7 linked regions of the Homo sapiens genome follow. The protein of the gene in region 1 interacts with the protein of each later gene in a pairwise test. Each region holds a gene or a part of one and is shown in the gene's direction. Other genes may lie near its edges. The genes, in order: BEND5, ZGPAT, EIF3D, GRAP2, USP20, FAM161A and LMO3.

The links.
Region 2: the proteins of BEND5 (region 1) and ZGPAT interact in binary tests that used the Homo sapiens proteins (3 or more experiments, as listed by UniProt).
Region 3: the proteins of BEND5 (region 1) and EIF3D interact in binary tests that used the Homo sapiens proteins (3 or more experiments, as listed by UniProt).
Region 4: the proteins of BEND5 (region 1) and GRAP2 interact in a two-hybrid assay, tested with the Homo sapiens proteins (one large-scale study listed by BioGRID and IntAct).
Region 5: the proteins of BEND5 (region 1) and USP20 interact in binary tests that used the Homo sapiens proteins (3 or more experiments, as listed by UniProt).
Region 6: the proteins of BEND5 (region 1) and FAM161A interact in binary tests that used the Homo sapiens proteins (3 or more experiments, as listed by UniProt).
Region 7: the proteins of BEND5 (region 1) and LMO3 interact in binary tests that used the Homo sapiens proteins (3 or more experiments, as listed by UniProt).

The regions. Positions count from the first base shown.
Region 1 is NC_000001.11:48,766,892-48,770,391, reverse strand, and holds part of BEND5 (BEN domain-containing protein 5), read left to right. Parts: intron 1-3,500. UniProt on the Homo sapiens protein: Acts as a transcriptional repressor.
Region 2 is NC_000020.11:63,711,039-63,714,538, forward strand, and holds part of ZGPAT (zinc finger CCCH-type with G patch domain-containing protein), read left to right. Parts: intron 1-3,500. UniProt on the Homo sapiens protein: Transcription repressor that specifically binds the 5'-GGAG[GA]A[GA]A-3' consensus sequence. Represses transcription by recruiting the chromatin multiprotein complex NuRD to target promoters.
Region 3 is NC_000022.11:36,519,167-36,522,666, reverse strand, and holds part of EIF3D (eukaryotic translation initiation factor 3 subunit D), read left to right. Parts: intron 1-1,978; coding exon 1,979-2,091; intron 2,092-3,129; coding exon 3,130-3,262; intron 3,263-3,500. UniProt on the Homo sapiens protein: mRNA cap-binding component of the eukaryotic translation initiation factor 3 (eIF-3) complex, a complex required for several steps in the initiation of protein synthesis of a specialized repertoire of mRNAs.
Region 4 is NC_000022.11:39,963,584-39,967,083, forward strand, and holds part of GRAP2 (GRB2-related adapter protein 2), read left to right. Parts: intron 1-336; exon of another isoform or gene 337-791; coding exon of another isoform or gene 792-986; exon of another isoform or gene 987-1,322; intron 1,323-2,406; coding exon 2,407-2,575; intron 2,576-3,500. Other genes in the region: TMA7B (translation machinery-associated protein 7B), read left to right, coding at 792-986. UniProt on the Homo sapiens protein: Interacts with SLP-76 to regulate NF-AT activation. Binds to tyrosine-phosphorylated shc.
Region 5 is NC_000009.12:129,841,958-129,845,457, forward strand, and holds part of USP20 (ubiquitin carboxyl-terminal hydrolase 20), read left to right. Parts: intron 1-3,500.
Region 6 is NC_000002.12:61,844,061-61,847,560, reverse strand, and holds part of FAM161A (protein FAM161A), read left to right. Parts: intron 1-3,500. UniProt on the Homo sapiens protein: Involved in ciliogenesis.
Region 7 is NC_000012.12:16,551,018-16,554,162, reverse strand, and holds part of LMO3 (LIM domain only protein 3), read left to right. Parts: intron 1-2,835; coding exon 2,836-2,941; 3' UTR 2,942-3,145.

The DNA.
Region 1 (3,500 bases):
GAGATAGGTGTCCTGGAAACCAAATGAGAAGAGAGGTCTTTGGATCCTAGAACTAGGCTTGTTTGGGTTTCTTTTAACTATATAGCAGCTACCTTTTCCTTTTCACTCATTGGTCAGACATAGGATAGGACAGCTAAATACATAAGCAGGAAAAGAAAAGATTTGAATGGGATGATATTTTGGTAATTTTCATTTTCTCAGTTTTGCACCACAGAGGAAGGATCAGCCTTGCTCTTGAAAGCAGAGTTGGGGTCAGAGAATGGAATTCACAGGCATTGGTGGGAGCAATATAACAGCAGAGAGAGCAGACAAATAATGGAAAGGGCTTCTAGCATGGTGCTGAGCTCCCTGTCACTAAAGGTGGCAAGCAGGTCAGGGGTATTTTAGGATGGAACCCTGCACTATGGGAGAGTTTGGTTAGATGACTTCTAGATCATTTCCTTAACTACTGAAGAGGAAATTTTAGAGAGCTGAAAGAGGACAGGCTTTGAAGTTACATAGTCTGGGTTAAAATTGTGACTGTGCTACTTAGAAGCTGTGTGGCTTTGGGGAGATTACTTCACATCTCTGAGTTCCAGGTGCTCATCTATAGCATGGAGATAGTAATTGCCCACTGTGTTATTTAGCAGGATAATATGGAAAAATATCTGGCATATAGTAGGTTCTCATTAAATATAGATAACTGTTAGGAACTACAGTGGACTAATAGGTGCTGAGAGAAGAACAGTGACTTGCTTAGTTGTGGGTACTGCCCACTGTGGAAAGGAATGACTTAGAGGAACGAGCACTTGGAAGGAGCATACAAGTTTAAAATTTAACTTGTGTGTGTGTGTGTGTGTGTGTGTGTGTGTGTGTGTGTGTGTGTTTTAAATCCTCCTGGGACTTGACCTAAGCATGAAAGGCTTACTATTAATATTTCCCTCCCTGTTTGTTCCTCTGCGACCCTATCCTGGGGGCATTTATTGTGTTGGCAGCAGCCCTGGTGAGGCACATGGAGGCAGCTAGACAAATGGCTCCATAGAATGAACTTCCCAGTTTTTTCTGTGCCCCAGTCCTGTACCAAGGCCAGAGAGGTGGTGGGAGTGAGAACAAGGAGACCTACTGAAACCTGGCTAGCAATTCCTTCTCTCCCTATGTGGATGGCCTCAGTAGGGCATTTCTTCAAACATGCCCACGTGGAAGAATCTTCTAGCTCATCTACTGTTACCCTACATTACACAGCTGAGAAAGAGACCTGGAAGTCCCTGTGACTGGCCAGCGGTCACATAGCTGGATGGATCTGTTAAGGTTTTCTACTGTAGTCTTCATGTTTTACAGAAAAGAAAATCAAGAGAGGACTAATCACCAAACAAGTTAATGAGAGAGGCAGGCCTCGATTTGGTGTCTCCTGATGTCTTTCTGCAACACCACAGCAGGGCACTCTTTTTTTTGTAGTCTTGGCTGGGTACAATCCTTGAAACTTGAGAATTTTGTCTGCCTTGGATTTTATAAAAACAAACACCATCGGCCAGAGAATGCACTGTGTTTGTATTTTCTGTGGCATATCTGTTTTTAATGCAAACATAAAACTGCACAGGATTTTTGTATAGATGAAAAACTTTAAACTTATATATAGATATTTATAAGACCTTTACAAAGCATTTTATGTGTAGCCTTTCAGAATTTCATCCTGGCTAACAAACTCATACCAAATTAGGCTCTCTGACATTGGATTATTTTAATTGCCCAGCCTGATTATATGTCAAATGGAAGTTAAGACAAAATTTCTCCCATTTTAATAATACTGTAAATTCTTCATGGGTAAATTCACTTTTGAATACAGACTTGCATTGGGTTTCCTGTCACCTGCTTGTTTTTTCTAAAACACCATTTGCCTATTACCAGCATGCTTCCTTTTTTCCCCAGTAGTAAGTTTAATGGAATGTTTATCCTCCTCAGATTAATAACACCAAGTTCTTCTATATTTTTGAATAGCAGTTTTTACCATTTTTTTTACAAGAAAGCTCTTTGTGGCTTTGAGTAGAGACCCTATTTGGGCATTATTTAGAGCTTTGTGGCTTCCATAAGCCTTGTAGTTCAGGAGTTTGGCAACAGGTCATATTTATATAGTGTTTACTTCAACTTGGGAATTCATCACAGTATTCTCTTAGGGTGTAGGCAAGATCTTGGGAGAAAGGCAGGCACTTTAGGAAGTTATATTGACATACTCATGTTACATGTGCCTTTTAGTTCATTTGAGGAAGTTACAGCAACTTCCTTATTTTTCTCTTGTTGCTGTAGGATAATTAGGTGATAGGAACAGGGCCTGTATTAAACAGACTTGATTTGAAATGTTGGCTCTGCTATTTATGTCTTTATGAAAGCCACTTCACTTCTTTGAGCCTCAGTTTCTGCTTCAGTAGCATTATTGTAGGGATTAAATATAGTGAGTTTGTAAGGAATGTTGCCCAGAGCCTGGCACATAGTAGGTGCTCACTCAGTATTTGTTGAATGGATGAATGTAATTAGCTGACATTGTAGTAGCTAGAAAGGAGGAGGAAAAGGATAATGCCCAAATCTTTGGTGGTTTCCCTTGCCCTGGACATAAAAGAGTCCAGAAGTGAAGATTGGTGATTTTATCTTCAGAGGCTGCACATTTATTTTTGTTTACACTAAAACTGATTATTTGGCCTCAAGGTTAGAGTAGTTGCACAGACCGGCTGAGTAAAGAGCTTTTTCATCCTTCCTAGTTTCTTCTGTGGTTTCTTGGAATTCAAAGCCAGAAGCATATCCCAAAGTCACATTAAAATGCCACATAAAGTATTTACTGTCTTACATGATCCACACCACCATTCACCTTCATTCATGTGACCAGTCAAGAGTTACAGCTTCTTGTCACCCTGTGTTCTGTCTCCTCCTCACGTCTTATCCGTCTTGCTTGCCACTGTCACATTAATCTTCCTAAAACATCTCTTTCATCATGTCTCAGTCTGTGTCAGATACCTGCAGTGGTTCTCTTTGCCTTGGGACAAAAGGCAAACAGGTAATACACAAGGGTAGCCTAACAGCTGCTATTTATTGAACATCTATGACAAGAAAGGCACTGTGCTTGGTGCTTTTACATGCACTATCTCTTTGGAAAAGAGTTTATTATCCCCACTTCACTGGTAATGAAACTGAGTCTCAGACAGGTTAACTAGCTTACCCCAAGCTGCCACAGTTAGTATGTAGCAAAGCCAGAATTCCAAATTAGGACCACCTGATTCAAAAGACTGCACTGTTTTTGCTAGATACTGGGCCACCCTCTCCCAACCATTTCTTCCATTTGTTATGATGACACTGAATGTTCAGTAATCTTCTATGGATGTGAGGTATCTATACCTTCAACTCAGGATTAGGGTTAGGATGGCATAGAGAGCAGATATTTGCACTATATAAGCCAGTGTCTCTCACGAAGTCACACCTTGCATTTTGGTTGGGTTCTTATCATATACTGGGTTGTAAGGACCAAAAACACAAGG
Region 2 (3,500 bases), on another chromosome or scaffold:
TTTTTTGAAACAGCGTCTTGCTGCTCTGTCACCCAGGCTGGAGTGCAGTGGCACAATCTCGGCTCACTGCAATCTCCGCCTCCCTGGCCCAAGCCATCCTCCCACCTCAGCCTCCCTAATAGCTGATACTACAAGTGTGCACTGCCACGCCCAGCTAATTTTTGTATTTTTTGTAGAGACGGGATTTCACCATATTACCCAGGTCTCGAATTCCTGATCCCTTTGATGAGAGATCTGACACATCCCTGTGGTGCTCCCTCTGGGCCAGGCACTGCTCCAAGGGTTTCATATACTTTCATTCATCTGTGCAACAGCCCTGTAGGTAGGCCCTGCAGTCACACCATCTGACAGAGGAGGAAACAGGAGTAGAAGAACTGAGTGGTCCAGGGCTTCAAGGCTCAGAGGGCTCCGGTTGCCCCCAGCCCTCGTTCCGTCCCCTGCTCCACCCAGTGCTGCTTGCCATGTCGGCATCAGGCCTGATCTGAAAGCTTCCGGAGCATCTTACAGACGTCCACCTTGCCACCATTCAGGACTGATAAGTTCTCTTGGATTTGCGTTGGACCTTTTTTTTTTTTTTAAGATGGAGTTTCACTGTTGTTGCCCAGGCTAGAGTACAATGGCATGACCTCCACCTCCTGGGTTCAAGGGATTCTCCTGCCTCAGCCTCCCAAGTAGCTGGGATTACAGGCGCCTGTCACCACGTGGTGCCCAGCTAATTTTTATATTTTTAGTAGAGGCAGGGTTTCACCATGTTGGCCAGGCTGGTCTCGAACTCTTGACCTCAGGTGATCCCGCCTTGGTTTCCCAAAGTGCTGGGATTACAGGCATGAGCCACCACACCCGGCCCAGGATTTCTTTATATATTCTGGATATCATCCCTTATGAAGTATATAGTTTGCAGATATTTGCTCCCATTGTTTGGGTTGTCTTTTCACTTGATATAGTGTCCTTTGATGCACAAACATTTTAAATTTTGATGCAGTGCAATTTATTGTTTCTTTATTGCCTATGTTTTTGTCATCAGGTTTAAGAAACCACCTCATCCATAGTTATGAGGATTTTCACCTATGTTTTCTTCTAAGAGTTCTGTAGTTTTAGCTGTTAAATTTAGGTCTTTGATCCATTTTGAGTTAATTTTTGTATATGTTATTAGGTGAGGGTCCACTTTATTCTTTTGCATGTGGATTTCCAGTTTTCCCAGCACCATTTGTTTAAAAGACTGCTTTTTCTCCACTGAATGGTCTTGGCACTTTTGTCCAAAATCAATTGGCAATATATGTAAGGGTTTATTTCTGAGCTCTCTCTCCTGTTCCATTGGTGTATATGTGCCAGTACCACACTGTTCTGATTATTATAGCTTTGTGATAAGTTTTAAACTCAGGAAGTGGTAGTTATTCACCATTTGCTCCTCTTTTTCAAGTTTGTTTTGTTTCTGGATCCTTTGCAATTTCATATGAATTTTAGGATCGGCTTGTCCAATTCTGCATAAAAGACAGTTTGAATTTTGATATGGATTGCATAGAATGTGTAGATCTGTTTGGGGCACATTGTCATCTTTACAATATTAAGCCTTCTGGCTGGGTGTGGTGGCTGACGCCTGTAATCCCAGTACTTTGGGAGGCTGAGGCGGGCATATCACTTGAGGTCAGGAGTTCAAGACCAGCCTGGCCAACGTGGTGAAACCCCGTCTCTACTAAAAATAAAAAACAAATTAGTCGGAGGTGGTGCACACCTGTAATCCCAGCTACACGAGAGGGTGAGGCAGGAGAATCGCTTGAACCTGGGAGGAGGAGGTTGCAGTGAGCTGAGATCATGCCACTGCACTCCAGCCTGGGTAACAGAGGGAGACTCCATCTTAAACAACAACAATAACAGAAGAAAAAAACAGTATTAAGTCTTCCAATTCATGAATGAAGGATCTGTCCATTTATTTACGTCTTTAATTTCTTTCAACAGTATTTTGTACTGTTCAAGTCTTGCACATTCTTGGTTAAATAAGTATTATTTTTGATGCTTCTCTAAGGAATTGTTTTTCTTTTCCTTTTTTTTTTGAGACAGAGTCTTGCTCTGTCACCCAGGCTGGAGTGCAATGGCACAATCTTGGCTCACTGCAACCTCTGCCTCCCGGGTTCAAGCAATTCTTCTGCTCAGCCTCCCAAGTAGCTGGGATCACAGGTGCCTGCCACCACACCCAGCTAATTTTTTTTTTTGAGATGGAGTCTTGCTCTGTTGCCCAGGCTGGAGTGAAGTGGCCCAATCTTGGCTCACTGCAAGCTCCACCTCCCGGGTTCACACCATTCTTCTGCCTCAGCCTCCTGAGTCGCTGGGAATACAGGTGCCTGCCACCACGCCCAGCTAATTTTTTGTATTTTTAGTAGAGATGGGGTTTCACCATGTAGCCAGGATGGTCTCGAACTCTTGACCTCAGGTGATCTGCCTGCCTCGGCCTCCCAAAGTGCTGGGATTACAGATGTGAGCCACTGTGCCCGGCTGGAGTTGTTTTCCTTAGTTACATTTTCAGGCTGTTTGTTGCTAGTATATAGAAATACAAGCTGGGCACCGTGGCTCACGCCTGTAATCCCAGCACTTTGGGAGGCCAAGGCGGGTGGATCACCTGTGGTCAGGAGTTCGAGACCAGCCTGGCCAACATGGTGAAATCCAGCCTCTATTAAAAATACAAAAATTAGTCTGGCATGGTGGCAGGTGCCTGTAATCCCATCTACTCAGGAGGCTGAGGCAAGAGAATTGCTTGAACCTGGGAGGCGGAGGTTGCAGTGAGCTGAGATCGCGCCATTGCACTCCAGCTTGGGGAACAAGAGTGAGACTTCATCTCAAAAAAAAAAAAAAAGAAATACAGTGGATTTTTTTATGTTAATCCTGTATTGATTGCTGAATTGGTTTATTAGTGCTAATAGGATTTTTTATGCACTATTTAGGATTTTCGATATATACAATCATATATATTCAATATATACAATTAATATATATGTGAATAGAGATAATTGTAGTCTTTGTTTCTAGTTTGCATGGCATTTATTTCTTTTTCTTGCTTAACTGCCTTAGCTAGAACTTCAAGTACAATGTTGAATAAAAGTGACTAGAGCGGGCCGGGGGTGGTGGCTCACACCTGTGTTCCCAGCACTTTGGGAGGTGGAAGTGGGCAGATCACTTGAGATCAGCAGTTTGAGACCAGCCTGGCCAACACGGCGAAACCCCATCTCTACTAAAAATACAAAAATTAGCTGGGTGAGGTGATGTGCACCTGTAGTCCCAGCTACTTGAGAGGGTGAGACATGAGAATTGCTTGAACCTGGGGGGCGGAGGTTGCAGTGAGCCAAGATCATGCCACTCCACTCCAGCCTGGACGACAGAGCAAGAACCCTGTCTTTAAAAAAAAAAAAAAAAAAAGTGGCTAGAACAAACATCTTTATCTTGTTCCTGATCTTAGGTGGAAAACTTTTTTGTTCCTGATATTAGGTGGAAAACTTTTAGTCTTTCAC
Region 3 (3,500 bases), on another chromosome or scaffold:
GCACCCCCAGTAGCCCAGCAGTAGGCAGCTATGAATCTGTTTTCTGTCTCGGGATTTTTTGTTCTAGACATTTTACATAAATGGAATCATACAATATGTGGTCTTTAGTAACTGGCAGCTTTTATTTAGCGTGTTTTCAAGAGTCATCCATGTGGTAGCATGTGTCGGTACAGTTTTCCTTCAGTATATGAAAGTCTACACATTCTCAAGTCCCACATTCGGCCTGTGGTAGCCACATATATGAAAAGTCGGCCCTCCATATACTCGGGGTTTGCATCCCAAGAATACTGTTTTCTTTTTCTTTTCTTTTTTGAGACAGAGTCTTGCTCTGTCACCCAGGCTGGAGTGCAGTGGCATGAATCTTAGCCAACTGCAACCTCTGCCTGCTGGGTTCAAGTGATCCTCCTACCTCAGCCTTCTGAGTAGCTGAGACTATAGGCATGCACCACCACGCCTGGCTAATTTTTGTATTTTCTGTAGATAGGGGGTTCTGCCATGTTCCCCAGGCTGGTCTCAAACTCCTGAGCTCAAGCAGTCCACCCACCTCAGCCTCCCAAAGTGCTGGGGTTACAGCCATGAGCCACTGCGCCTGGCTTGTATTTTCAATCCATGTTTGTTTGAAGAAAATCTGCATATTAAGTAGACCCATGTACTTCAAACCCATGTTGTTCAAGTTCAGCTGTGCTTCATCTGTTGTTGGTTTTTTTGGTTTTTGTTTTTTGTTTTTTTAAGATGGAATCTCACTCTGTCACCCAAGCTGCAGTGCCAGTGGCGCGATCTTGGCTCACTGCAACCTCCGCCTCCCGGGTTAAAGTGATTCTCACACCTCAGCCTCCCAGGTAGCTAGGATTACAGGCACGTGCCAACATGTCTGGCTTTTTTTTTTTTTTTTTCATATGTTTTGTAGAGACAGGGTTTTACCATGTTGGCCCGGCTGGTTTCAAACTCCTGACCTCAGATGATCCACCCACCTCAGCCTCCCAAAGTGCTGGGATTACAGGCGTGAGGCACCACACCCAGCCCAGATGAGCTTCTTTTCTTGTTTATTGCCAAATAAGAGTCCTTTGAATTATACATCATGTTGTTTTGAGCCATTCACATGCTGATGAACATTTGAGTTGTTTTTCACTTTTTGACTATTATTGATGCTGCTGTGAACGTTCACCTGCGTGTGCTTGTGTGGGCATTCTGAGAACAGAACACATGTAAGCAAAAGTGAAGCTACATTTTGTTGGATATGATGCTGTATCAAGAATAGTTAATAACCCGAGAGAAATATAAAGGACCTTCTACATGTTCATCAGGTGACATCATTACCTGGGAGTGGAACCCCATTTGCTTTTGAACTTTTGATCCCTTTGGTCCTCTTCCACACCATAAATTCCTGGGAGTCAGGGATTCTGTCTTATAAAACAGTCAGCACTCCATTTATTGAATAAAAGCTCTTTTTCTTTTCTCTCTTTTATTGAGACGCAGTCTTGCTCTGTCACCCAGGCTGGAGTGCAGTGGTGCTATCTCAGCTCACTGCAACCTCCGCCTCCCAGATTCAAGCTGTTCTCCTGCCTCAGCCTCCCGAGTAGCTGGGATTACAGGCATGCATCACCATGCCTGGCTAATTTTTGTATTTTTAGTAGAGATGGGGTTTCACCATGTTGGACAGGCTGGTCTCGAACTCCTGACCTCAGGTGATCTGCCCGCCTTGGCCTCCCAAAGGGCCACTGAGCCCCTCCGTTTTATGTGGTTGTTGTTTGAGACAGGATCTCGTGTCACTCAGGCTGGAGTGCAGTAGTGCAATCATAGCTCACTGCAGCCTCAAACTCCTGGGCTCAAGCAATCATCCTGCCCCAGCTTCCCAAAGTGCTGGGACTACAGGCATGAGCCACTGCACCAGGCCAGCTCTTCATATTTTTAGCCTGTCTTTTATTTATGTTTTGTATGGACTATAACTTTTTTTTCCTCTAATGGTTTTCAACTGCAGAAACCCCGAGACTCTTCAGTTGAAGTTCGTAGTGATTGGGAAGTGAAAGAGGAAATGGATTTTCCTCAGTTGATGAAGATGCGCTACTTGGAAGTATCAGAGCCACAGGACATGTAAGCAGCATCTTTTACTACTTTCTACACTGCTCTTATGTGTGTGGACCAGCTGGTGATGGGTATTTTCTTAAGCCCTAGTATTTCCAAAAAGGCTTTGAAGCCACTTACTCAAAACACATTTCATAAGGTTAACAGAGGTATTTGAAAAAAATCAAGACCGGCCAGGTGCAGTGGGTCACCTGAGGTCAGGAGTTCAAGACCAGCCTGGCCAACATGGTGAAACCCAGTCTCTACTAAAAATACAAAAACTTAGCCGGGTGTGGTGGCACACACCTGTAATCCCAGCTACTCAGGAGGCTGAGGCACGAGAATCACTTAAACCCTGGAGGTGGAGGTTGCAGTGAGCTGAGATCTTGCCATTGCACTCCAGCCTGGGCAACAAGAGCGAAACTCCATCTCAAAAAAAAAAAAATCAAGACCAAGGGGAAAAGCAGAAGTTCACTGACTGCAAACTTCTTTTTAACTTCCTGGTATCCTGAGGAAAGAAGAAATGAGTTATACAACTCTTTTGGCAGAAAGAGAAAGCAGAATGGAATTTGCTGATTATTAAACTGTATATTTCTGTTTCCTGGCATCCTGAGCAAAAGAGCAATAAGATTAAGTTATAAAACTCTTGTCAGGAAAAGAAACACAGCAATTCTTCAGGAGGAATCTTTGCTTCTCCTGACATTTCAAATAGCTTCTTACCTCAAAGGACAAGTAGGTGGAATTTAGGTAGTGGGAAACCAGAGCACCAGACGAGAAGTCAGCCTACCCAGGTGCTTCTATAACTAGTCATCTCCTGTCTTAGCCTCGGTCACCCTACCTTTAAAATGGGGGCGTTGGGCTAGATGAGTTGTGCTTGCTGTGTTCTATGCCAGGTGTTAAGTGGACAGGAACTGAGCAAGCACTGAGGATTCGTCTCTCCTGCTCTGGCCAGAGATTGCTTTCCACCTCTTTTAGACTTTTGGATAAGACTTCTGGATGTATGGCTTAAAAGAAAAAACTGGGGGTTATCTCTCTTACTTTGCATGTCTTTGCCTGCTCTTCCCACAGTGAGTGTTGTGGGGCCCTAGAATACTACGACAAAGCCTTTGACCGCATCACCACGAGGAGTGAGAAGCCACTGCGGAGCATCAAGCGCATCTTCCACACTGTCACCACCACAGACGACCCTGTCATCCGCAAGGTGTGCGCCTCCTTCTGCCCCTCTCCCCCTTGTTAGGAATGCTGTCGGCTTCTACAGCTGAAGCTGCAGAAAGAACAGAAGACATGGGAATAACGTATGTATTATAGGTAAAAGCACTTTGCCAGGTAGACCGGAAATGTGGATGTTAAGCACAGCTGGACTTGAAGCCCAGTTCTGCCGCGCTTCCTGGCTTAGTCTCTGGAGCCTTAGTTCTCTCATCTGCAACAAGGGGTAGATG
Region 4 (3,500 bases), on another chromosome or scaffold:
CACCCGAAATCAGTCAAGCAAGAGGCCACTTGTACAACCTGTGGCTTCACCCAGCTATGAGCAAATCCCAGCACATAAGATGAGATTGAGGGTCAGAATTTCCATCTCCTTCTTAACACAGGTCCCTAAATCCATCCCTAAGAAACCTCCATGGTCAGGCGCAGTGGCTCACGCCTGTAATCCCAGCACTTTGGGAGGCTGAGGTGGGCGGATCATGAGGTCAGGAGATCGAGACCATCCTGTCTAACACGATGAAACCCCGTCTCTACTAAAAATACAAAACTTAGCCGGGCGTGGTGGCGGGCGCCTGTAGTCCCAGCTACTTGGGAGGCTGAGGCAGGAGAATGGCATGAACCTGGGAGGTGGTGCTTGCAGTGAGCAGAGATCACGCCACTGCACTCCAGCCTGGGCGACAGAGCGAGACTCTGACTCAAAAAGAAACCTCCACTTACTCTCAGAGGTATCTTTACTCTCCGAGACCCTTTAAAATTCTTGACCTTTCTTTTACATCAGGCAATTGGCATCACTAGTGCCAGTTTATTTTTAGATATAAATGTATGTCTGTTTGAAAAATAAACTTTACATCCAAAAGAGAATGACTTGGCAATGAAGTAAAACTGGATCTAATGGTAAAGGCTCAGCCCACCCTTCCTAGATGGATAAAATCCATTTTCTCTAGCCCTGGTTCGAATGTGTCCCATCACTTGTGAGTCCAGACTGGCAACAAAAGGTGCTGATCTAAAAGAAGTTATCGTCCAGTGGCAGGGTCTGGGGAAGGGGCGGCAGGCGCCATGTCCAGCCACGAAGGTGGCAAGAAGAAGGCACTGAAACAGCCCAAGAAGCAGGCCAAGGAGATGGACGAGGAAGAGAAGGCTTTCAAGCAGAAACAAAAAGAGGAGCAGAAGAAACTCGAGGTGCTAAAAGCGAAGGTCGTGGGGAAGGGGCCTCTGGCCACAGGTGGAATTAAGAAATCTGGCAAAAAATAAGCTGTTCCTTGTGCCTAAGGAGACGGTGACCCTTTATTTCATCCGTATTTAAACCTCTCTATTCCCTCCTATAATATCTTTTGCCACCTATAGTTGGAATTAAGTGTCGTCTTGGAGCTGTTGTACATTTAAGAATAAACTTTTGTAAAAAAAAAAAAAAAAAAATCTTCCAGTGGCTCATCATCTCTTTAGTTGTTTTCACTAAGTCATTCCTACCATAACTGTGAATTTAAAGTAAAACCAGCTCAGAATCTTGCCAGAATCTGCTCTTTGGTCGTTGTTCTACCCTAAACTTTGTATCACCTGAAATTAAACCAACTCATTTGAAAGAAAAAAGAAGTTATCATGTTTAGGTGGCGTGACAGGCCAAGCTCACTAGACTGGAGTCAGAGACTCAGGGTTCTGGCCTCAGCCCTTACTCAGCAGTGACCTTGACCAAGCCCCTGCACCTCTGTGAGCCTCAGTGTCCTCATCTGTAAAATGGAGAAGTAAGGCTAAACAATCTCCAACATCCTTGCCAATTAAAACTCTATCATTTCACAGGGCGCAGTGCCTCACACCTGTAATCCCAGCACTTTGGGAGGCCAAGGCAGGTGGATCACCGGAGGTCTGGACTTCAAGACCAGCCTGACCAACATGGCGAAACCCCGTCTTTACTAAAGACTTGGTGGTGGGTGCCTGTAATCCCAGCTCCTCAGGAGGCTGAGACAGGAGAATCGCTTGAACCTGGGAGGCGGAGGTTGCAGTGAGCAGAGATCACACCACTGCACTCCAGCCTGGGCGACAGAGTGAGACTCCATCTCAAAAAAACAAAACAAACAAACAAACAAAAACTCTGTATTTCATACAAAGCTATTTCACCAAAAGCTGAAAACACTTTGTAACCTTATTTATGCAAAACATAAACCAAGATCAAGAGATCCTTATTACATAGAGAAAAAATGTGACATATTTCTTAGGAAAGAGAGTAGCTTCTTACCTGCCAGTGCTAGCTTATGGGCTTAAAGGAGATGGTTCAAAGAATTTCTGGTAACAGAAAGATAATAGGAGCTTGAAATACCCCTGTTGACATCTTGCGAATAAACATTGTGAAAAGGTCTTTGATCTCTTTGTCGTTAAGTCACTTGGAACATGCTTTTCTTGTAAAAGGTTAGTTCCAGTGTCCAAAACAAATTTTAGCTCATCTGATTACCTTCTGCTGATGTAAATCCCGTCTAGCATAGCCTGTATCCTAAGTGGTCCATCCTACAAAGTTCCTGCCGAAGCCTGACTGGGCTGGCCCACCTGCCCAGTGATGAGTGAGTCATCCATATCTACATCTCCTGCTCAAAGAGAACTCCACCATCCCAGATGTGAGCAGCCTGGAGGTGGTGACATTATCACCGTGTAACATACAATTTTGTTTTGCCTTGATCTCCAGGCATGAGGATGACGTTCAACACTTCAAGGTCATGCGAGACAACAAGGGTAATTACTTTCTGTGGACTGAGAAGTTTCCATCCCTAAATAAGCTGGTAGACTACTACAGGACAAATTCCATCTCCAGACAGAAGCAGATCTTCCTTAGAGACAGAACCCGAGAAGACCAGGTATGCTCCAGATCCAGTCGACCCCAATCTAGAGATTTTAGGCAGCCTGAGTTCTCACATGAACCACCAGGAAAAATGCATAGGATGGGTAGATCCTCTGAGTATACTGAAAGACAGAGCTCAGAGCTCTGAGGTCAGATCTCAACTTAACACTTCCTAGTCGTGTGACTTTGGAAAGTTCTCTGCGCCTCAGTTTCCTCATCCATAAAGTAGGGACAATGGTAATATCTACCTCCCAGAATGGCTGTGAAGGTTGGAGAAGATAATGTATCCCACGCCTCATGTCATTCCTCATCACACTGCGCTCAGCAAGCATCAGCTCTTACCACAGGTGCTGTTTTTTTGTTATTCATAGACATTGCTACACCAAAGTTTTCAACCTAGCTCAAGAGTTGCCCAAGGATGAAGGAGTTGGGGGTGCTACAGACAGGGACATTAGGGAACAGCCTAGAGTTCAGGAGTTAAATCAGCATGTGGAGTTTTATGATGGGATTGGGGGTAGGGAGGACATGGGAGGAGAAAACTGCACTTGGAATTATTGCTGTTGCAACTGTTTGCAATACAGACTATTGCTTTAAAAGGAAATGCGTCAGACAGACCTGGTATGAAATCCTGCTTTAATCGCTTAGCTACCTGTATTACCTAGCCAAGTTAAGAAACCATCTGAGTATCAGTTTTCTCATCTGTAGAATGGAGAGAGCAATAAAACCTCCCTCACTGGGCTGTTGTGAGGATTAAATGACTTAATACAGCTAAGCACTACCAGAGTCTGGTCCATATTAAACACTAAGAACATGTTAACTTGCCTCCCATAAGTAAATTCACACATGCACACACTCACACACACACACACACACCAATTTATGAACTATTTTTCAAAGGAAATAACATGGTTATAAGAGACAGGTATCATAGGAAGAAGCAT
Region 5 (3,500 bases), on another chromosome or scaffold:
TCCTACCAATTTCAGTGTCCTAATGTATAGAACAGCCAGTGACACAAATTATAGTAGTAAACATTTTTTGAGCATTCTTGTCATGCAAATCAATAAAAAATCTGAGCCACCCAGAAAGTCCATGAGGCCCTAAGTCATTCAACTTAGCGTTTACTGTGCATTGGCTCACTTCATCTTCTCAGTAACCCTAGGTGCTGTCATTGTCCCCATTTTATGAATGTGGAGACTGAGCGATTTATCTAAAGTCACAGACTTGCAAGGGGCAGAGTGAGGTACTGAACCCAGGGCTACTTGTCCCTGTAATTTCCTTCCATAGTGACCGTTACCTCCCGGGATAATGTATGTGCAGCAGCTAACCCTCAGTGAGTGTAGGAAACAGAGGTGCTGGTGGTGATTATCACCTCCCTAGTGTCTGCTTGCAAGTACCCTGAGGTTGAAGTATGGGACTCTGTACACTACAAGAGCAGGGCCTATGCCTGGCTGTTTCCCAGCACCCCAAGTCACTGTTCCTAAGGAGGTACATGGTCAGTGTTGGTTGGGTACCAAAAGGAAGCAAAATGATAACTTTCAGACAGCTGAGATATGCACCCTCTTGTCGACCCCCATGCTTCCGATATTTTAGGTCCTGTGTGTGGAAGTTTTTTTTTTTTTTTTTAGACGGAGTCTTACTCTGTTGCCCAGGCTGGAGTGCAATGGCGTGATCTCGGCTCACTGCAACCTCTGCCTCCTGGGTTCAAGCGATTCTCCTGCCTCAGCCTCCTGAGTAGCTGGGCTTACAGGCATGTGCCACCACACCTGGCTAATTTTTTGTATTTTTAGTAGAGATGGGATTTCACCATGTTGGTCAGGCTGGTTTCGAACTCCTGACCTTGTGATCCACCCTCCTTAGCCTCCCAAAGTGCTGGGATTACAGCTGTGAGCCACCGCACCTGGCCCTTTGTGTGGAATATTAAGCACCCAGTGTTTTCTGTACTACCGCCCTTTTTCCTTCATAGAAATGATTTTTAACCATTAATTTTTAAAATGTTAGTAAACCTTAAACTTTTTATGTTGCACATACTCATATACTGCTGATAGGCAGATAAATGTATATACTGTTTCTAAAGGGAAGCTTATCAATATCTATGTAGAGCCTTCAAAGCACACATTTTGACCAATAATTTTTTTTTTTTTTTTTGGTCAAAGATGTAGGCCGGGCATGGTGGCGTACACCTGTACTCCCAGCACTTTGGGAGGCCGCAGTGGACAGATCACTTGAGGTCAGGAGTTCGAGACCACCCTGGCCAACGTGGTGAAACCTCGTCTCTACTAAAAATACAAAAATTATGTGGGTGTGATGGTGGATTCCTGTAATCCCAGCTACTCTAGAGGCTGAGGCAAGAGAAACGCTTGAACCCAGGAGGCGGAGGTTGCAGTGAGCAGAGATCACGCCACTGCAGTCCAGCCTAGGCAACAGACTAAGACTCTGTCTCAACCACGACAACAACAAAAAGACAGTCTGGTCGCAGTGACTCACGCCTGTAATCCCAGCACTTGAGAAGCTGAGGCAGGCGGATCACCTGAGATCAGGAGTTCAAGACCAGCCTGACCAATGTGGTGAAACCTCATCTCTACTAAAAATCCAAAAAGATTAGCTGGGCGTGGTGGTGTGTGCTTGTAATCCCAGCTACTTGGGAGGCTGAGGCAGCAGAATTGCTTGAACCCAGGAGGTGGAGGTTGCAGTGAGCCGAGATCACACCACTGCACTCCAGCCTGGGTAACAAGAGTGAAAACTCCATCTCAAAAAAACAAAACAAAACAAAACAAAAAGATTTAGTCAAAGTTTCACATTCCTGGTGGCTCACACCTGTAGTTCCAGTACTTTGGGAGTCCAAGGCAGGCAGATTGCTTGAACCCAGGAGTTCCAGACCAATCTGGGCATCATGGCAAAACTCTGTCTCTATAAAAGAAAAATTAAAAAGTAGCCAGGCTTGGTAGTGCATGCCTGTAGTCCTAGCTACTTGGGGGGCTGAGGTAGGAGGATCACCTGAGCCCAGGGAGGTAGAGGCTGCAGTGAACCATGATCACACCATTGCACTCCAGCCTGGGTGACAGATTGAGACTTGTCTTTAAGCAAAACAAAAGATTCATATTCCAAAATGTTTCTCAGTGCCTTCTTTATAATGGCAAAACACACATACACAAAATACAAAAATACCACGTCCTATGATGGATAAATAATTCAGTAAGGGGTTGTATAGCTTAAATTATATGTGGTATAATATTATTCACCTATTAGAAATGAAGCTGAAAAGAAATTTAGTGACATTAGAAATATATAAACCAAAAAAAGCTGTATACAAATTTATTGGTTATATTGCAGTTTATTTTTAAAATTTATATATCTGGTTGGGCATGGTGGCTCACGCCTGTAATCCCAGCACTTTGGGAGGCCCAGGCAGATGGATTGGTTGAGCTCTGGAGTTTGAGACCAGCTTGGGCAACATGACGAAACCCCATATCTACAAAAAATACAAAAATTAGCCAGGCGTGGGAGTGTGTGCCTGTAATCCCAGCTACTCGGGAGGCTGAGGTGGTAGGATGGCTTGAACCTGAAGTGGAGAGTGTGTTCAGTCGAGATCGCACCACTGCACTCCAGCCTGGGTGACAGAGCGCGACTCTGTCTCAAAAAAAAAAAAAAAAAAAAAAAAATTATATATTCGTACATGTAAATAAGACTTACCAAAACCAAAAAGGTAACCATATTTTTTTTCCTGTACAGCAGGATTACAGGTGATTTTTATTTCATTTTATGTCTGTGTCTGTTTCCAGCTTCTATGAAGGTATATATCAAATTTATGAAAACCAGACAAAAATGCCTTTAAAATTTTCAGGACAAGTAGGAGAAGATGAAAAATTTGAATACAACATGGAGGTAAATGAGGCAAAAATGAATATTGAGAGGGCCGGTCATGGTGGCTCATGTGTGTAATCCCAGCACTTTGGGAGGTGGAGGTGGGCAGATCACTTAAGCCCAGGAGTTCAAGACCAGCTTGGGCAACACGGCAAAACCCTGTCTCTACCAAAAATACAAAAATTAGCCAGTCTCATAACCTGGTCTCTAAATAAATAAATAGATAAAAATACAAAAAACACATGTTGAGGGCACTTCTTGGCCCCTGTGAGTCACCTGGAGAAGTGTGCTTAGGAGCCATCCAGGTAGCAGCTTTGGGGACTTCTGGGACCACTCAGATGCTCCCACCCCTTCTCTGAAAACCACCCTGTGTAGGCTCAGGGCAGTGCCTGGCACAGGGGCCTGGAGAGCTCCAGGGAACAGAGGCTCTGTCCCCTATGGTGCCCTCAGGAGTTTGGGGAAGAGCAACATACCTAGGAAGCCAGATGCACACTCTTCTTATTTTCTTATTTTGGAAACTTGAAAAACCATTAACAGTAACCGATTTAGGTATTTTTTTTGGTTTGTTTTTGTTTTTAGGAGCAGAGGTTTAACAGGCAAAAGAAAA
Region 6 (3,500 bases), on another chromosome or scaffold:
GGGCTCAAGCAATCCACCTGCCCCAGCCTCCCAAAGTGCTGGGATTACAGGCCTGAGCCATCAGGCCTGGCAAATTCTTACCTTTGTAATGTTTACTTTTTGGTAGGGGCAGGCATATAATACACAATCAAGTACAGATATGTAGGACGTCAATGGTGATGAGTACTTCTGGGAAAAATAAGACAGACAAGGGGGCTGACAGTGAGTCCTGGGAGAAGTTGTAATTTTAAATAGGAGAGTCAGGGAAGACCTTATTGAGAAGACAACATTTACATAAAGACCTGAAGGAGTGAGCAAGTGGGTCATGTGGATATCTGGAGGAAAAGGCATCCTAGGGAGAGGGAACAGCAAGTGCAAAGGCCTTGAAGTAATTCTGTGGATTTTTGTTTCTTTTTTTTTGAGATGGAGCCTCACTCTGTCACCCAGGCTAGAGTGCAGTGGTGCGATCTTGGTTCACTGCAACCTCTGCCTCCTGGATTCAAGCGATTCTCCTGCCTCAGCCTCCCGAGTAGCTGGGATTATAGGCATGCACCACCACACCCGACTAAGTTTTGTTTTTAGTAGAGATGGGGTTTCACCATGTTGGCCAGATTGGTCTCGGATTCCTGACCTCAAGTGACCCAAAGTGCTGGGATTACAGGCATGAACCACTGTGCCTGGCCAATTCTGTTGATTTTTCGAGTGAAAACTGCATACTGGATTCAGACACTGCTACTAAAACGAACTGCTGCTGCCCAGATGAATAACCGTTGCTAGACTGACACAAGCCGACAGGAAGCAGTCAGAGGGCTAACAGAAAGGAGTAAGTCCCATCTTTCTCCTCTAGCCTTGTATCTCCCTCTAACTCCACTTTTAGCAGAGTCTGATGAGGAGCACTGGCAAAGCAGAAGTGTGGTTTGCAGAGTTCCAGCTCTGGCATTGCAAAGCAGAGTCGAGAAGGGTGGCATTGGAGCTGAGAGACACTAGTTTAACACCTGGCACACCTACTTTACATATCTTAAAGCTGATGTTCAAGAAGTTCATGCCCACATCACATTGCTAAGTGCGGAGCCCAGGCTTGTATGAGTATCCTGACGTCACATCTGAAATCTTTCTCCTAAGCTGTGAGAACACTCCAAACTAAAAGTTATTTAACTCCCACCCAACCCTTTCATCTTTGAAGGGTCATAAGGGGGCTGAAACCACGTGACCAGTAATCAGGAGCCAGTGGTAGGCAGGAGATGGAAACCCCTTCTTGCTTGCCCTAACCTCCCTTTCTAGGTTTACTTCCCAAAACTGCTTTATGGGTTTTCCTCTCCTTTTATCCGGCAGCCATGTGCACCTTGCCCTCTGCTATGCACAGCCTCCCCAACCCCAGCCTGCGCATTTGCTAACGCCATTTCCTTTGCCTAGGGTACTTTCCCCTTCTTTCCCATAAACACTCTGTGATCCTATAGATTTCTCCATTCTTTTTTTTTTTTTTTTTTTTTTTTGAGACAGAGTCTTGCTTGATCGCCGAAGCTATAGTGCAATGGCTCGATCTCAGCTTACTGCAATCTCTGCCTCCCAGGTTCAAGCGATTCTCCTGCCTCTGTCCCCTGAGTAGCTGGGACTACAGGTACACGCCACCATGCCTGGCTAATTTTTGTATTTTTAGTAGAGAAGGGGTTTCACCATGTTGGCCAGGCTGGTCTTGAACTACTGAGCTCAGGTGATCCACCCACCTCAGCCTCCCAAAGTGCTGGGATTACAGGCGTGAGCTACCGCGCCCAGCCTTCTTTTTTCTTGATACAAGGTCTCACTCTGTCGCCCAGGCTCAAGTGCAGTGGCGCGCTCACGGCTCACTGCAGCCTCAACCTCCTGGGCTCAAGTGATCCTCCCACCTCAGCCACCACATCCAGCTAATTTTTTAAAAAAAATTTGTAGAGATGGTGTCTCGCCGTGTTGCCCAGGCTGGTCTGGAACTCCTGGCCTCAAGCAGTCCTCCCACTGCAGCCTCCCAAAGTGCTGGGATTACAGGCATGAGCTACCACACCTGGCCTCCATTCTTTATGACTCATCTCAAATATTACCTCCTCCAGGAAGTCTTCCCCTATCTTCCAAACTCAAACGAAACAAAAGCTCCCTCCATTTCCTGTCTACCACTGGCTCCTGGTCACTGGTCACCTGGTTTCAGCCCCCTTTTGACCCTATAAAGGTGAAAGCATTGGGTGAGAGTTAAATAACTTTTAGTTTGGAGTGTTCTCATGGTTTAGGAGAAAAATTACAGATGTGGTGTCAGAATACTCAATCAGAGGCTCCAAAGACCCGTATCAGTTGGTCTTTGTATCTCTCATGCCACTCTCTACCTCCTATTAGTCCTCCTTCCGCTGCTTATTTAAATGTTGGTGTTCTCCAACATCTCCATTCTCAGGTCCTCTCATGTCTTGTTGCTCACACTCCCTCCAGGCAGCCTCGTCCATAACCAAGGCTGCACCTGCTACTTCTGTGTGGATTGGTGGCTCCTGTATCTGCTCTCCAGCCCAGCCTTCTCACCAGGTCTCCAGACATTTATCCACATGTTTCCTGGCGATGGATGTTCTAGCACTATGCCTCGGATTTATTTATTCCTTTTTCACTGCCTCCCTGATCTGGCAAACTTTGTCCTCGTCCAACCATGTGTCTCCAGTCTGGCTCACCTCTGTGAATTGTGCCTCTGTCTCTTAGTGTCTGACATTGTGACATACATCTGTCTCTCCGCTTAGCTGGAAGTAGCTTGTGGGCAGGAATCAGGTGTTCTGTCTCATTCTAAGTCAGCTGTCTATTATTTATATACATGTCCTTTCCTAAGCTAGCTGGAAACTTCTCAAAGGTAGAGTTTTTGTTTGTTTGTTTGTTTTAAGTGAGACAGAGTCTTGCTTTGTCACCCAAGCTGGAGTGCTGTGGTACGATCTTGGCTGACTGCAACCTCCACCTCCTGGGTTCAGGTGACTCTTCCGCTTCAGCCTCCCGAGTAGCTGGGACTACAGGTACCTGCCACCATGCCTGGCTAATTTTTGTATTTTTAGTAGAGAGGGGGTTTCACCATGTTGGCCAGGCTGGTCTCAAACTCCTGACCTCAAGTGATCTGGCTGCCTCGGCCTCCCAAAGTGCTGGGATTATAGGTGTGAGCCACTGTGCCTGGCCTCAAAGGTAGAGTTTAAAAAAAATCTGACGTACATTTTAGCAGCTAGCTGATTGCAGGATGGCCCCCAAATATTTAATGAATGAGGAAATTCACAAAGTAGTCATCCTGCAGATAAGAAGTTTATGGTGAGAAGCACATAAAGAAACAGCAGAAGATATCAGAGAATTCTCTTAATTGAATTGTTTGACATAGTTAAAGCAGTTCTCTGATTCATAGAGTTGTTGGTAGCAAATTTCTGCACGTAAGTTCTATTGAAGACTGCTTTTTTTTTTGGAGACAGAGTCTCGCTCTGTCGCCTAGGCTGGAGTGCAGTGGCCTGATCTCAGCTCACTGCAAGCTCTGCCTCCCAGGTTCA
Region 7 (3,145 bases), on another chromosome or scaffold:
CAAGTCTCTAAGACTATATGAAGTCAGCTAAATCACTCAAAAATATCTAGAAATTACATCTCATATTAATTCCAAAACATCAGAATTAGATGGTTTAATAATCTAATTGGGCATCTTCTTATTCCTTACCATAATTTTTTTAAATGAGGGTAAAATTAATTGAACTGAGCATACTACAAGTAATTAGGGTCAGATTACAAGAAAGATTATGTTTATTTTTAGTAATTGTAGCCTGTTAATATACTTACAGTATCCTCTGGCTATCACTCCTTTCATAATGCTTTTTTTTTTTTTTCCTGCAAATGCTGAATCTCATAAGAAGTTGGTTAAATCACACTGGAAATTAGCATTTCTTACAAAATCACAGTTACAGATTAATTTGTTAAATACATACTATCTGTATTGCTGTCTCTGAAATTTCTTTATATTTATATATGAAGCATTTTTTAAAGAGGATGTCAACCTTAATTGCATACCAGTCGTAATCTGCTCTTAACCACAGCTTTCAAGGCTGTTTTGTTTGAGTCATATGTGCAAGTGTGACATCCCTCATCCATGTTCGTTTCATCTTGACCTTTAAGTATAAATTGAAATGCATATAAAATGCACTTTATCCAGTTGATAACATATTAGTAATAAAATATGTCAGGTAGGAATATTTTAGAAAAGTTCTGTCTCTCTCTCGCTCTGCCTCTGTTGCTCTATATATACCACTTAATTGAATAGTAGGCAGACTTTTTTAAAGTTATGCAAAAGAAATAATAGTAATACAAAAAACACAGTTACACCCTGTATAACCATTTAATCTTCACATTATTCTTGTAGCCTGCATGCTTTACTGCCCTCAGGTAAAAGCTTGAGTCTTGAATCCAAAAAGGCCTGGGTTATTTTTCTTCCTTTACTATAAACGTTTTAACTACAGAATCTTGGGCAGGGCTTTGAAATTCTGGCACGGAGTCTTAGGTTTTTCTTCTGTAAAAAGCCATGACAATGCTTACTTTCTAGGTTGGATGTAGGGAATAAATGTGATCATGTACATACATGCTTAGCATTTAGCACATGGTAAGCATAAAAAGGTGGCTATTTTACCTATGTTTCAAACATTGAGGTAAGATTTTAGATATTTCATTTCTACTCCTTGCCACAAGCCTACAAAGTCGACTGATGTCACAGGTATTAAAAACCAAAGTTTTATTTTCAATTATCATAAGTGGGAAGGTAGAGTTTGGACCCTACTGGTTGCAGTATACCTCTCTGCCTTTCAGACACTTTTCATTTGATAAGGATATCAAACTGGCTTGCACAAACACCATTATTGAAGTGCAACATTTAAAGTATACAGGTTACAACTAATACAAAGAAAATATACTTAAAGCCCCAAACTTGAATGTTCATTGTATCCAGTAGCTTTGACCACAAACAACCCTAGGATTTCAAGATCAGTGCATAGTCTGTGCTTTCAATCAACATCATCAGCAGGCAGTAATCCTGGGGAAAAAAAGTAAATTCCACAAATAGACCAATTTTCCTTTAAGAGGAAAGCTAATTCTTTTCAGTCTACTTTTTTTATTACACTATTTTCCTCTCTATCTACTTAGCTAGTATAAGGATAAATTTCCAAAGCTACCCAGTTGGAAAAAAATAGGTTCACTGTTTGTCTAGCATTCCAATCTTTGCAAATGTAAATCAGTCCAACTGCTCCTCATTTAAACCTTCAACTTCACAAAACATTAAAGGGTGGCTTTCACTACACAATTTAATCTATCCACTAAGATTTCTGCTGGAACATCATTTGAAATTGACTATCTGATAAAGAGAGACTACTATCAAAGGTCATAGAGGTCAACTTGTATAATTACAAGTAGTTTTACTGGGTCAACTCTACCAGACACCACTATTTGAAGGTTAAATTGTTACAATTAAATATATATACAGATCTCCCCAGAGTTACTTTATTGTTAAATGTACCAGAAACAGAAAAAACATTTATTTCTGACCTTAATTGTGTCCAAAGTGTCACCGTGGGGAAATCATACAGAAAGAACACTTATTAAAAACATTGCAGTCTTGCACATTAAACAATGCTTTATGAAATAAAATGCATAATTAGCTATTGGAAACTAGTTTAGTTTATCACATCAATATTAAGTAGTTCATTTAGGTTACTCCCTTTGGTTGAATTGGAAGTGCTCTAAGAAATGACATCTACTATTTCATGTTGGTGAACTTGCCACAAACAAAGGAAAATGGCTCAGCATCAGAATCTGATGCTAGAGCAACTTTCATTTCAGAATGATCACTTCTAGATTACTAACATTTAATCACATTTTAATAACAGAGTAAAAGAAAGCTTTAAATGGGAAGCTTTAAAATAGGCTATTTTCTAATTGTTTGATTCATTTTAATGCCTTTTACTTTTTTATTAAGTGCCTAAATGGCCAGAGATGAAATCATCCATAATTACTGCAGTGAAACATTATTATCATTCTTTCTTTTATTTTAATGGGTGTAAATACAGATCAGTTCTTTTTATTTTTTTTCTTTCCAGTGTGGTTTAAAAAAAAAAAAAGCAAGTCATCTTTGGTGCCCAAAGTGTTTATCTCAATATCCTTAGAATTTTTGCATGCAAAGGCAAGATTTCAAATGTGTGCAACATTTCATTAAATGAAGTAAATGGTAAATGGTCTAATTCTGATAATGAAGACAACTGTCTAAGCCAGGTTTTCAGATTCAGGGAATTACCATGCGAAACTATTAATAGGAAAATAAATCTTCAAATTTCTAGATCCAAGTGAAATGGTCTTAACCACATTTTATTGTTTAAAATATTTTCAGATTTTGTGTTGGAGACAAATTTTTCCTAAAGAATAACATGATCCTTTGCCAGACGGACTACGAGGAAGGTTTAATGAAAGAAGGTTATGCACCCCAGGTTCGCTGATCTATCAACATCACCCCATTAAGAATACAAAGCACTACATTCTTTTATCTTTTTTGCTCCACATGTACATAAGAATTGACACAGGAACCTACTGAATAGCGTAGATATAGGAAGGCAGGATGGTTATATGGAATAAAAGGCGGACTGCATCTGTATGTAGTGAAATTGCCCCAGTTCAGAGTTGAATGTTTATTATTAAAGAAA